Homo sapiens: one gene and its partners. The protein of the gene in region 3 interacts with the protein of the main gene of each other region in a pairwise test. Each region holds a gene or a part of one and is shown on either strand. Other genes may lie near its edges. The genes, in order: NMNAT1, SH2B1 and NTRK2.

Region 1 (3,652 bases), on a different chromosome or scaffold from region 3:
TGCTCAGACACATAAGCAAACCCAAGTGAGATCAACCAAACCTGGCTCAGATCGTCAAGCCAACAAGCTGACCCTAGTCTCAAAAACAAAAAATTAGTGTTCATTATCATATGTCACTCAAGTTTTGTGATTGCACTATTGTGGCCACAGTTAATTAATACAACAATATTATCATCTACCAAATACAGCATTTTTGCCTTTTAGTCAACATGATAGTAACATCATAACTTTCCACTAAATAATAGAATATAATTTACAAACCTCTTTTTCATATCAGTTATTCCACTGATCCTTCCATAACCCTAATGAAGTAACATAAGGCATCCAATTTTAGGTTTTTATTAAAATTTCTTTTTTTTTTTTTTGAGACGGGAGTCTCACTCTGTTGCCCAGGCTGGAGTGCATTGGCGCGATCTCAGCTCACTGCAAGCTCCGCCTCCCAGGTTCACACCATTCTTCTGCCTCAGCCTCCCGAGTAGCTGGGATTACAGGTGCCTGCCACCACACCTGCCTAATTTTTTGTATTTTTAGTAGAGACGGGGTTTCATCATGTTAGATGGTCTTCATCTCCTGACCTTGTGATCCGCCTGCCTCAGCTTCCCAAAGTGCTGGGATTACAGGCGTGAGCCACTGCGCCTGGCCTAAAATTTCTTATTCAACTAATTCATATATATAGATCTAGAACATCACAGGGTAAAAAAGGCCCTTAATGAAAACCAACAGCCATCAATCATATTCCACTCATCATCCCTTCCATCCAACCACTTTTAACTTTTTCAGCTATTTCTTCTGGTAGTTTCTACCATAACTCTACATTATGTGCTTATAATGCCATTTCTTAATTTATCCAACTATAACAGTGCCCATTGACTTTATGATCTATAAAGATTAGCCCTCATACCCTTTGACTACCTTCTCCCAAACTGCCCAATATAGTTTATCTCCAGACTATGTTGAAAATCATCTTCTCTCACAACTTCAAAGGCATTACTTCTAGATTCCAATGTTAATAGCATGAAATCCAAAGCCACTTCTAATTCCGGAGCTTTTGAATGTCATTTTTTTCCTGTCTTGAAGCATGTAAGGTCTTCTCTTTGTCCGCAGTGTTCTGAAATTTCACAGTGCTGTCCTCTAGTGCAGCTTTGTTTCTATCCATCATGCTGAGCACAGGGCAAGCAGGTCCTTTCAGTCTGGAAACTTGTAACATTCAGTTCTAGAAAATGTCCTTGAGTTCTTTCATTGATGATTTTCTGCCTCCCATTTTATCTGTTCTTTTGAAATGTCTATTATTTATTTATTTTTTTGAGACAGAGTCTCCCTCTCTCACCCAGGCTGGAGTGCAGTGGCACGATCTCAGCTCACTGCAACCTCCACCTCCCAGGTTCAAGCAATTCTCCTGCCTCAGCCTCCCAAGTAGCTGGGACTACAGGCATGCACCACCACACCCAGATAACTTTTGAATTTTTAGTAGAGATGGGTTTCACCATGTTAGCTAGGCTGGTCTCGAACTCCTGGCCTCAAGTGATCCACCCACCTCAGCCGCCCATGAACCACTGTGCCTGGCCTGAAAATGTCTATTATTTAGAGCTGAAGCATCTAATCATTTTTTCTGTATTTTCCACCTCCTGCCTTCATGCTCTAATTTCCTGATAGCCTCAACTTCATCCTCCAATCTGCCTAGTTTTCACTTCTGCCATTACACTCTTAATTTCCAAGAGCCCTATCCTCTGAATACTCCTGTTTATGGTATTCTACTCATTTCCCCAACAGATTATCATCTCTATTTCTCTACCAATATTCATGATATATTTTAAAGTTTCTTCAAAAAGAGCTGATGGGACAGGCTGAGTGGGTAGGTAGGGCTTGTGCACAGGGGCCATAACTGTTCAGTAACCTGTCAGTACCGCAGGTCTTTTTGCTTGGATTAGTCAGACTCTACAAGAAAGTATCCTACAATTTCCCGCCTATATAACAGAAGAGTTAAGAGCCTATGCTCTGATATTAGGCTGCCTGGCTTCAAATTGCAGCTCCAACGGCATGACCTTGGGCAACCTAACCCTAACTTAACCTTCCTTTTGTGCCAGGTTTTTTCTTTGGCTTTTTTTTTTTTTTTTTGAGACAGAGTCTCGCTCTGTCACCCAGGCTGGGGTGCAGTGGTACGATCTCAGCTCACTGCAACCTCTGCCTTCCAGGTTCAAGCAATCCTCCCTGCTTCAGCCTCCCAAGTAGCTGGGATTACAGGCACGTGCCACCACACCTGGCTAATTTTTTTTTTTTTTTTTTTGAGACAGAGTCTCGCCCTGTCGCCCAGGCTGGAGTGCAGTGGCATGATCTCGACTCACTGCAAGCTCCGCCTACTGGGTTCATGCCATTCTCCTGCCTCAGCCTCCCGAGTAGCTGGGACTATAGGTGCCCGCCACCACTCCTGGCTAATTATTTTTTGTATTTTTAGTACAGACGGGGTTTCACCATGTTAGCCAGGATGGTCTTGATCTCCTGACCTTAAGTGATCCACCTGCCTCGGCCTCCCAGAGTATTGGCATTACAGGCATGAGCCACAGTGCCCACCTTGTCCCAGTTTTTAATCAATCTTAAAAAGGAGAAAATAATACTACCTACCTCCTGATTGTTGTGAGGATTAAATGAAACAATACAGATCCAAGACATAGAACTACATTTGGCAGGCCAGGCGCGGCGGCTCACGCCTGTAATCCCAGCACTTTGGGAGGCCAAGATGGGCAGATCACGAGGTCAGGAGATCGAGACCACCCTGGCTAACATGGTGAAACCCCATCTCTACTAAAAACACAAAAAAATTAGCCAGGCGTGGTGGCGGGCACCTGTAGTCCCAGCTACTCGGGAGGCTGAGGCAGGAGAACGGCGTGAACCCAGGAGGCGGAGCTTGCAGCAAGCCAAGATCGTGCCACTGCACTCCAGCCTGGGCAACAGAGCGAGACTCCATCTCAAAAAAAAACAAAAAAAAAAACTACATTTGGCAAATAGCAAACATGCTATGAATATAGCTATTATGAATGTTGCAAATTATGTTACTAGAATTGTCTTTTGTTTTTTGATTTTTGAGACAGTATCTCACTCTGTTGTCCAGGCTGGAGTACAGTGGTACAATCTCAGCTCACTGCAACCTCCATCTCCCAGGCTCAAGTGATCCTTCGACCTCAGCCTCCCAAGCAGCTGGGACTACAGGCATGCACTGGCTAATTGTTTTTTTGTATTTTTTGTAGAGATGGGGTTTTGCCATATTGCCCAGGCTGGTCTCAAACTCCTGGGCTCAGAATCTCGAAGCGAACCTGTCCACTTTGGCCAATTCCAAAGTGCTGGGCTTACAGGTATGAGCCACTGTGCTCAGCAAGCAATTTTTTTTTTAATCAACAAAACATCAATTTCAAATGGTTTAATTTACAATTGCTATTCTATTCAATCTGTTTTTTTCCCAGAGGATTTTCTTTCTGGAACTCTCCTCCTCTTATCCAGATGAAAAATCTCTATTTGTGAAGCTATTATTCTGAAAACTTCTTCATCTCTTTCCTGGGTTAGATCCCCTATTTATTTCTCGCTTTGCTTTCTAATCTTTCTGGAGCGTATCCTCAAGCGTTTCATGATAAAGGGTTGATCTCTCATACACCCTTTATCA
Region 2 (3,652 bases), on a different chromosome or scaffold from region 3:
CCGTTGGTAGGGGACTGGTCAGTGATGGAACGTCCCCTGGGGAAAGATGGACTCACCGTTTTGAGAGGCTGAGACTCAGTCGGGGAGGGGGCGCCTTGAAGGATGGAGCAGGGATGGTGCAGAGGGAAGAGCTGCTGAGTTTCATGGGGGCTGAGGAGGCAGCCCCTGACCCAGCCGGAGTGGGCCGGGGAGGAGGGGTGGCTGGGCCTCCTTCAGGGGGAGGAGGGCAGCCTCAGTGGCAGAAGTGTCGCCTGCTGCTTCGAAGTGAAGGAGAAGGAGGAGGAGGAAGTCGCCTGGAGTTCTTTGTACCACCCAAGGTGAGGCCCCTTGGAGGGTGGGTGACTGAGAGCAAGTGAGAGAGTGCTCAGAGTGGTCACAGCCCTGCAGATAAGCTCTGGGGTTTACCAGCCCATGGCCCTGGTGTCGCTCACTTTTTGTTGGTAAAGCTGGCTCTTGGCTCTGTGTTAGCAGCTGCGGGCAGGACTGAGAAAGCAGTGTGACTGCCTTTTGTCTAACTTCCCGAGGATGTAGAAGGAAAGATGAATGTCTGGAGGGAGGGGAAGAGTGGTCTTTGGAAACCAAACACCCAGATCTGTTTCTTTCTCCTGACTTAGGCCTCTCGGCCCCGACTCAGCATCCCCTGCTCTTCTATCACAGACGTCCGGACAACCACAGCCCTGGAGATGCCTGACCGGGAGAACACGTTTGTGGTTAAGGTAGGAATTCAACTTCCCAGCCGCCGGCAGTGCTTGTGTTAAGGAGAAAGCCCTCAGCGCATTTAAGCAAGTGGCGTCGCCGAAAGGAGGTATATATATGTGTCCAGTGCCTTGAGAGTGTGTCCCTGGGGCTGCAGCTTTTCTGGGATAGCGGAAGACAGGGAAATGTTCTTACTCTCAAAAACAATGCCTCCACTTGAAAGAGAACTGTGGAGTTTTTGTTGTTGTGGTTGTTTTAGAGAGACAGGGTCTCCCTCTAAGTCAGGAGTGCAGCAACCTGATCATAGCTCACTGTAGCCTCGTGTAGCCTCGAACTCCTGGGCTCAAGTGATCGTCCTGCCTCAGCCCTCTAAGGAGCTGGGACTACAGGCATGTGACACCATGCCTGGCTAATTTTGTTACTTACTTACATTTGAGATAGAGCCTTGCTCTGCCGCACAGGCTGGAGTGCAGCGGCGCGATCTTGGCTCACTGCAACCTCTGCCTCCCAGGTTCAAGCGATTCTTGTGCCTCAGCCTCCTGAGTAGTTGGGATTACAGGCATGCACCACTATGCCCAGCTAATTTTTTGTATGTTTAGCAGAAATGGGTTTTGCCATGTTCGGCAGGCTGGTCTCAAACTGGCCTCAAGTGATCCACCCCACTTGGCCTCCCAAAGTGTTGGGATCACAGGCGTGAGCCACTGTGCCTGGCCTTATTTTATTTTATTATTTATTTATTTTTTTTGAGACAGAGTCTCGCTCTGTCGCCCAGGCTGGAGTGCAGTGGCGCGATCTCGACTCACTGCAAGCTCCACCTCCCGGGTTCATGCCATTTTCCTGCCTCAGCCTCCCGAGTAGCTGGGACTACTGGCGTCCGCCACCACGCCCGGATAATTTTTTTGTATTTTTAGTAGAGACGGGGTTTCACCAAGTTAGCTAGGATGGTCTCGATCTCCTGACCTCGTGATTTGCCCGCCTCAGCCTCCCAAAGTGCTGGGATTATAGGCGTGAGCCACTGCGCCTGGCCTATTTTATTTTATTTTATTTTTATTTTTTATATTTTTGAGACGGCATTTTACTCTGTCTCCCAGGCTGGAGTTGAAGTGGCATGATCTTGGCTCACTGCAACCTCCGCCTCCCGGGTTCAAGCGATTCTCCTGTCTCAGCCTCTCGAGTAGCTGGGACTACAGGCGCCTGCCACCACGCCTGGCTAATTTTTGTTTTTAGTAGAGACAGGGTTTCACCACATTGGTCATGTTGGTCTCGAACTCTTGACCTTGTGATCCACCCTCCTTGGCCTCTCAAAGTGCTGGGATTACAGGTGTGAGCCATCGTACCCGGCCTCGCCTTATTTTATTTTTCAATTTTTTTAGAGACAGGTTCTCACTATGTTGCCCAGACTGGTCCAACTCCTGGGCTCAAGTGATCCTCCAGAGGTGCTGGGATTACAGGTGTGAGCCTCTGTACCCGGCCTCCAGAGAGAATTCGAATGCATCTTGTTTGTAGACAGCCTGCATACATTGTTCTCATTAGGCATGGATTAAGCCTCCTCCCTGCCCCTGCCCCAGCTGAGGCGTCGTCTCATCTCTGTAGGTGGAAGGTCCATCCGAGTATATCATGGAGACAGTGGATGCCCAGCATGTGAAGGCCTGGGTGTCTGACATCCAAGAATGCCTGAGCCCAGGGTGAGAAGCCTGACTTCTGTCGCTAAGGGACATAGAGTGGGGTTGGGGAGCAGCCTTGCGCCTCTCACCTGGTGACTTTCCTCCCAGCACCATCTTCCCTGTCTCTGCAGACCCTGCCCTGCTACCAGTCCCCGCCCCATGACCCTCCCTCTGGCCCCTGGGACCTCATTCCTTACAAGGGAGAACACAGACAGCCTGGAGCTGTCCTGCCTGAATCACTCGGAGAGTCTACCCAGCCAGGACCTGCTGCTTGGACCCAGCGAGAGCAATGACCGCCTGTCGCAGGGTAAGGGTGGAGCCTTAGAGAGCTCGGAGCCTCGGAACCTGCCATGCGGGGCCCCTGCTGTCAGGCGCCATGCCCTCTCCAGACGCCACTGTGCCCCCATCCCTGTTTTCCAGATGCCCTACCCCAACCCCACCAAATGTTGGTCTTTGATCCCTGAACACAGCCACAGTTTGCTGTTTAGAATAATCATGACCCCACGCAGGCCCCAAGCAAACCTTAGCCAGGCTTCTGCACCCAGCCTCGCCACTTTTTCAGTCAGCGTCCTGCCAGCCACCGCTCTGGCTGGAAATAATGGTGGTTTTCTCCAAGCTTCTGGAACACTTTGTAGAAATCTTTGTTTTGTTCTTACTCTGCATCTCTGTGTCTGTCAGGGGCAATCACGTTTTCTCTTGACTCTGTACTTTTTGGTCTGACCAAACACACATACCCGACCCACACACACAAACACACAAAGATGTGTCACCCAGTCCCAACTCATATTTCTAGATTCGGCCTCCACTATAGCCTTTTCTCCTGACCCTCTGTTCTGAGTTCCAGCTGCACAGTGCCTAGCACACAGGCTGTATTCAGTGAATGAACACATGAATCATGGAATCTTAGATCTAGAGTGGACCTTGCATCTCATCAGATCTTAGTAGCTAAGACCAGGGAGAGGACACCTGAGGGTCACTGAGGAAGACAGGGGCTGCGCCACCCTGTTTCCCAAGCCATGCTGTCTGTGCACCACACGCCTGTCTTCTGAGCACTGCCTGCCTATGACATTTGTGTAGGCAGTGGCCTGCTGTTGGACAGACTTGGAGGATGGCCCTAGTGCATACCTGGCCCTGCTCTGTGTCCCGGGCCAGGATGGGGTAGCTAGGATGCCTGAGATGAGCTCCTTGTTCTCTAGAGGCTTTCAGCTGGGTTGACATCACTCCCTATAGAAAGCTTAGTGTCCCCTGAGCAGCACAAGCAGGAATCACGTTGGGAGCTCAGGAGGAAGAGA
Region 3 (3,652 bases):
GGTCTTCAGATTCACACACTGCCAGACCCCGAGCACCTTGTATCATGCCCTTCCTTCACAGCTGATGTATACACTTCCTTATCTCCGTGACCGAGGCTTCAGGGAACTTCAGAGCCTTGAGAAACTTGTCTGAGCATCAAATCCAAAGCCCTCAGTTTACATGTGACAAGCTGAGGCCCAGAAACATTAAAAGGCTGCTTCAAGATCAGGTAACTGGGTAGTGACTGGGTAGTGGTGACATTGGGATGAAGTTCCAGGTCTCCTGACTTCAGCTTTCCATGATATGCTTTTTTATTTTTATTTTTTGAAACACATAAGGAATAAACTTAGTATCTACACATTGCTTTTCTTTGCAAGATTTTTGTAACTTTGAGCACATTCACTCATCCATCTCCCAGATCAATATTTATAACTTCCCAGTCCTTTGGACACCCCAGAGAGCAAAGTAAGTGGTGAGAAGGCACCCAGTTATATGGGACCTTTACTTTTCTAATGGAGATTGATCAGCAATCAAATGTGAGCTAAAATTATCAGGCCACAGTGGAGCTCAGATCTTTGCCATTTGAGGCTTGAGGTGGGATTTGTTTTAAAATAGCTCAACCAAGTAGACTATAAAAATGATTGATCAACCATAAATAATCCAAGATTCAGGGTTTTTTTTCTTCCCTCTATCTTTCTCTCTCTCTCTCACAAACACACATCAAACAAGTAAAAACTTTGCCATGCTTCAATAGTCTCTCCCCCAAATCCTCCTATTGATTACAGGCATCAGAAGCAACTAAAAATTGGCATTGTTCCAAGGGGCAGGTCTTTCATGTCACATCCTACGCTATAGCTTTTGAACCTACAAGAAACTCTCTAGAGAAGTGGTAAAGTTAGCCAGAGGGATAAGGCCAGTTTATGGTATTCAATAATGGTTTGATAATGTTTTTTTCCCTAGCAGGCAAGATGACCAATGAGTTAAAACTGGATGCACTTGCTTAACACTCAAGGCAAAAAAAAAAAAAAAAAAAAAAAAAAAGGAAAGAAAGAAAGAAAGGAGAAGAGAAAAGAAATTCAATTCCCCTTCCCCAGCTAAACAAAAACACTAGTTTTTATACTCCTATGACCTAGATATAGTCAAAGAGATCATACAGAATATTACTAGGGAGAAAGAGACCTCAACTCTCAGCTGTTCAGCCAACTCTTCAGCTTAGAAAACACCTTTATAAGGGAATATTGAAGCAGACACAAACAGAGGTTTATGGGATAGAAACAGTGAGAGACCTTAAACAGACCTAAACTCCACACTAGGGAACTGGGACCACATTGCTTCAACTTCCCAATACTTGCTTGTAATAACATACAGCCCAGGCTCTTCTCTTAACTCCAGCATTCTGAATTCCCATAAGGAAATATCACTTTTCAGAGAAGAAAAAAATCAAACCCATTTTCCTGTATAAATAATGGGTGATGGAAGGGGAGGTGGAAGAAAGTAGGGTCAAAAGGGTCACAAGGCTTTTCCACTGTTTTACCCAGGGTAACAAAAGTGTCCATATTGCAGAGATTGAAGGTATGAAACTAAAAAGACTCCACACAGTTGTGCCAAGCTGATGTCTGTAAATACCTACACTATGAAGACAGCATGTTCTCAACTCCAGCTTGCAAGTTGTATTAAATAATGAATGATGTAAATTAGACTGCCTTATTCATTAACAAGTCTAGTGTGGCTTATGTAACCGTGCTCCAAATTTAAATACATGGCTCTTAAATGCATATAAGACACAGTCCAAAGTTCTAAAACCCCCAATGGAGGGGCTGAGAAGTAAACATCAGAGTAATAAAAATTGATGCCTTTCACTGAATCTTTGTGAATGCCAGGATTTTTTTTTAAGTACAATTAATTGCAATGGCAAAGCTTATTAAAGTAAGAGGGCCAAAATCAATGTATTAATGACACAACATTACAGCTGCTTAACCAGGCCAACAATAAATTGCACATAGAGTCTGTCATAGGAGAAGCTCCAAATTCTATTTAGGTTGTGCTAAGAGGAAAAATATAAGGCTGTTCTCAAATATTACCCCCAAATCAGAGAATACCACTGGAGAAATTCAAAAAAAAGATCCCTATTAGTCTTCATAAAGCACGTGCAACATAAAAATGCATGCCCTTCCACAGCAACATGGATACACAGAACACTACTGAACTGTAAGATGGTACATTTTAGGTTATGTATTTTTTTTTTACCACAGCTAAAAAAATGCACGACTTCTTTTGACTGTGCCTTTTACCACTTGGGTGAAACAGAACTTGTCCTTTGCAATGCACTTTGGCACTTAATACAACTGGGATTTAAACGGCCAGTTACATAATTCCAACAACAGGCTTCACTCTTGAATTCCATTGCATGTGACATTGGTACTGCGTTTAAATTCATTTTAACACTGCTGTGGTATAACCATTTCCAAATAACAGGAGCTGCCACTTAGCAGTGTGATGTTGAGCAGGCGTGATACATACCTATAGATAGATATTGATCTAGTTATGTCACATTAGTGGGCAAAAAATATAAAACAGGTACTGTGATGGGAAGATTTTTAATAAAATAGGTTCAATGACTCTGAAGACAAAATGTCAGCTTAGCTGAAAGCATGCATGTAAAAACAAAACAAAACAAAAAGATCCTACCTCTTGGTTAATCTACACATTTTTTTTAATGTCCCACTATTTGTGTTCTTAGAACCCTAAGGGCATGATGGTTTAATATATAGATGCTAAAAGATACACCATTTTTGAATGATATGGTAAACCGTTGTTTCAGCAAGTTGTGTGTTGCTAATCACAGTTTATTCACCACATTATTTCTATTTTTAAAAAATAGACGCACGTAACTTCAGCTACATACCACTAAACCAGAACTTTACAACAGGTTATTTTAGGAATACCACTGGGCCTAACAACAAAGTTTTAAAATATGTATAATTTGGTTCCAACTGTAGCTGGTATCCACTGGACAAGAATTTAAAAGCTGTGCAAGCAAATATTAATATGTAAGAAAAAGAACATAGATGGTGTCATATAAGGATGCGAGTGAAACAAGCGCATCCACTGATGTCATTTTTAGGTCAAAAAAGCAGAATTCAAAATAATTATATGGAGTACTTTCCAAAGAAGTATTGTCATACGAGTTACAGACAAAGGCACTGGGGCACAAACTGGCTGGGCTCACACAAAGCTGAGATAGAGCAGAGAAACATACTTTGTCTCAGGACTCACATCTACCCAGCCAGACTAATATTACTAACCTAATTCCCTGTTCTCAACACTTAGCCCTATATACCTCTCCAATCCCACAACCCCAAGAGGTTTTCAAATCAAAAGGGAAAAAAGTTAGAGTAGAAATTAGAAGTGCCACGATTGAATGAATAACTATGACACATGCTTTTGTAAATATTTTTAAAATCTACTTTAAAAAAGCTGAAAATAGGAACCTGCCATCAGATATAAAAGAAGCAACAACAATTGTGAGGACAGATATAAGAAAGCTCTGCTGAAATCAATTGATTTCATATACATCAGGCAGCTAAGATCAGGAAGGTCTGAAATAATAATTTTTTAGATTTAAAGATAGTTTTATTTCCTTTTTCTCAGATCATGGCCTTAAAATTATCA

What was found.
Region 1: the proteins of NTRK2 (region 3) and NMNAT1 interact in a two-hybrid assay, tested with the Homo sapiens proteins (one large-scale study listed by BioGRID and IntAct).
Region 2: the proteins of NTRK2 (region 3) and SH2B1 interact in a two-hybrid assay, tested with the Homo sapiens proteins (one study listed by BioGRID).

What each region holds. Positions count from the first base shown.
Region 1 is NC_000001.11:9,967,403-9,971,054, reverse strand, and holds part of NMNAT1 (nicotinamide/nicotinic acid mononucleotide adenylyltransferase 1), read right to left. Parts: exon of another isoform or gene 3,597-3,652; intron 1-3,596.
Region 2 is NC_000016.10:28,866,717-28,870,368, forward strand, and holds part of SH2B1 (SH2B adapter protein 1), read left to right. Parts: coding exon 1-317; intron 318-614; coding exon 615-716; intron 717-2,289; coding exon 2,290-2,381; intron 2,382-2,491; coding exon 2,492-2,667; intron 2,668-3,652. UniProt on the Homo sapiens protein: Adapter protein for several members of the tyrosine kinase receptor family.
Region 3 is NC_000009.12:84,672,694-84,676,345, reverse strand, and holds part of NTRK2 (BDNF/NT-3 growth factors receptor isoform a precursor), read right to left. Parts: intron 1-3,652. UniProt on the Homo sapiens protein: Receptor tyrosine kinase involved in the development and the maturation of the central and the peripheral nervous systems through regulation of neuron survival, proliferation, migration, differentiation, and synapse formation and plasticity.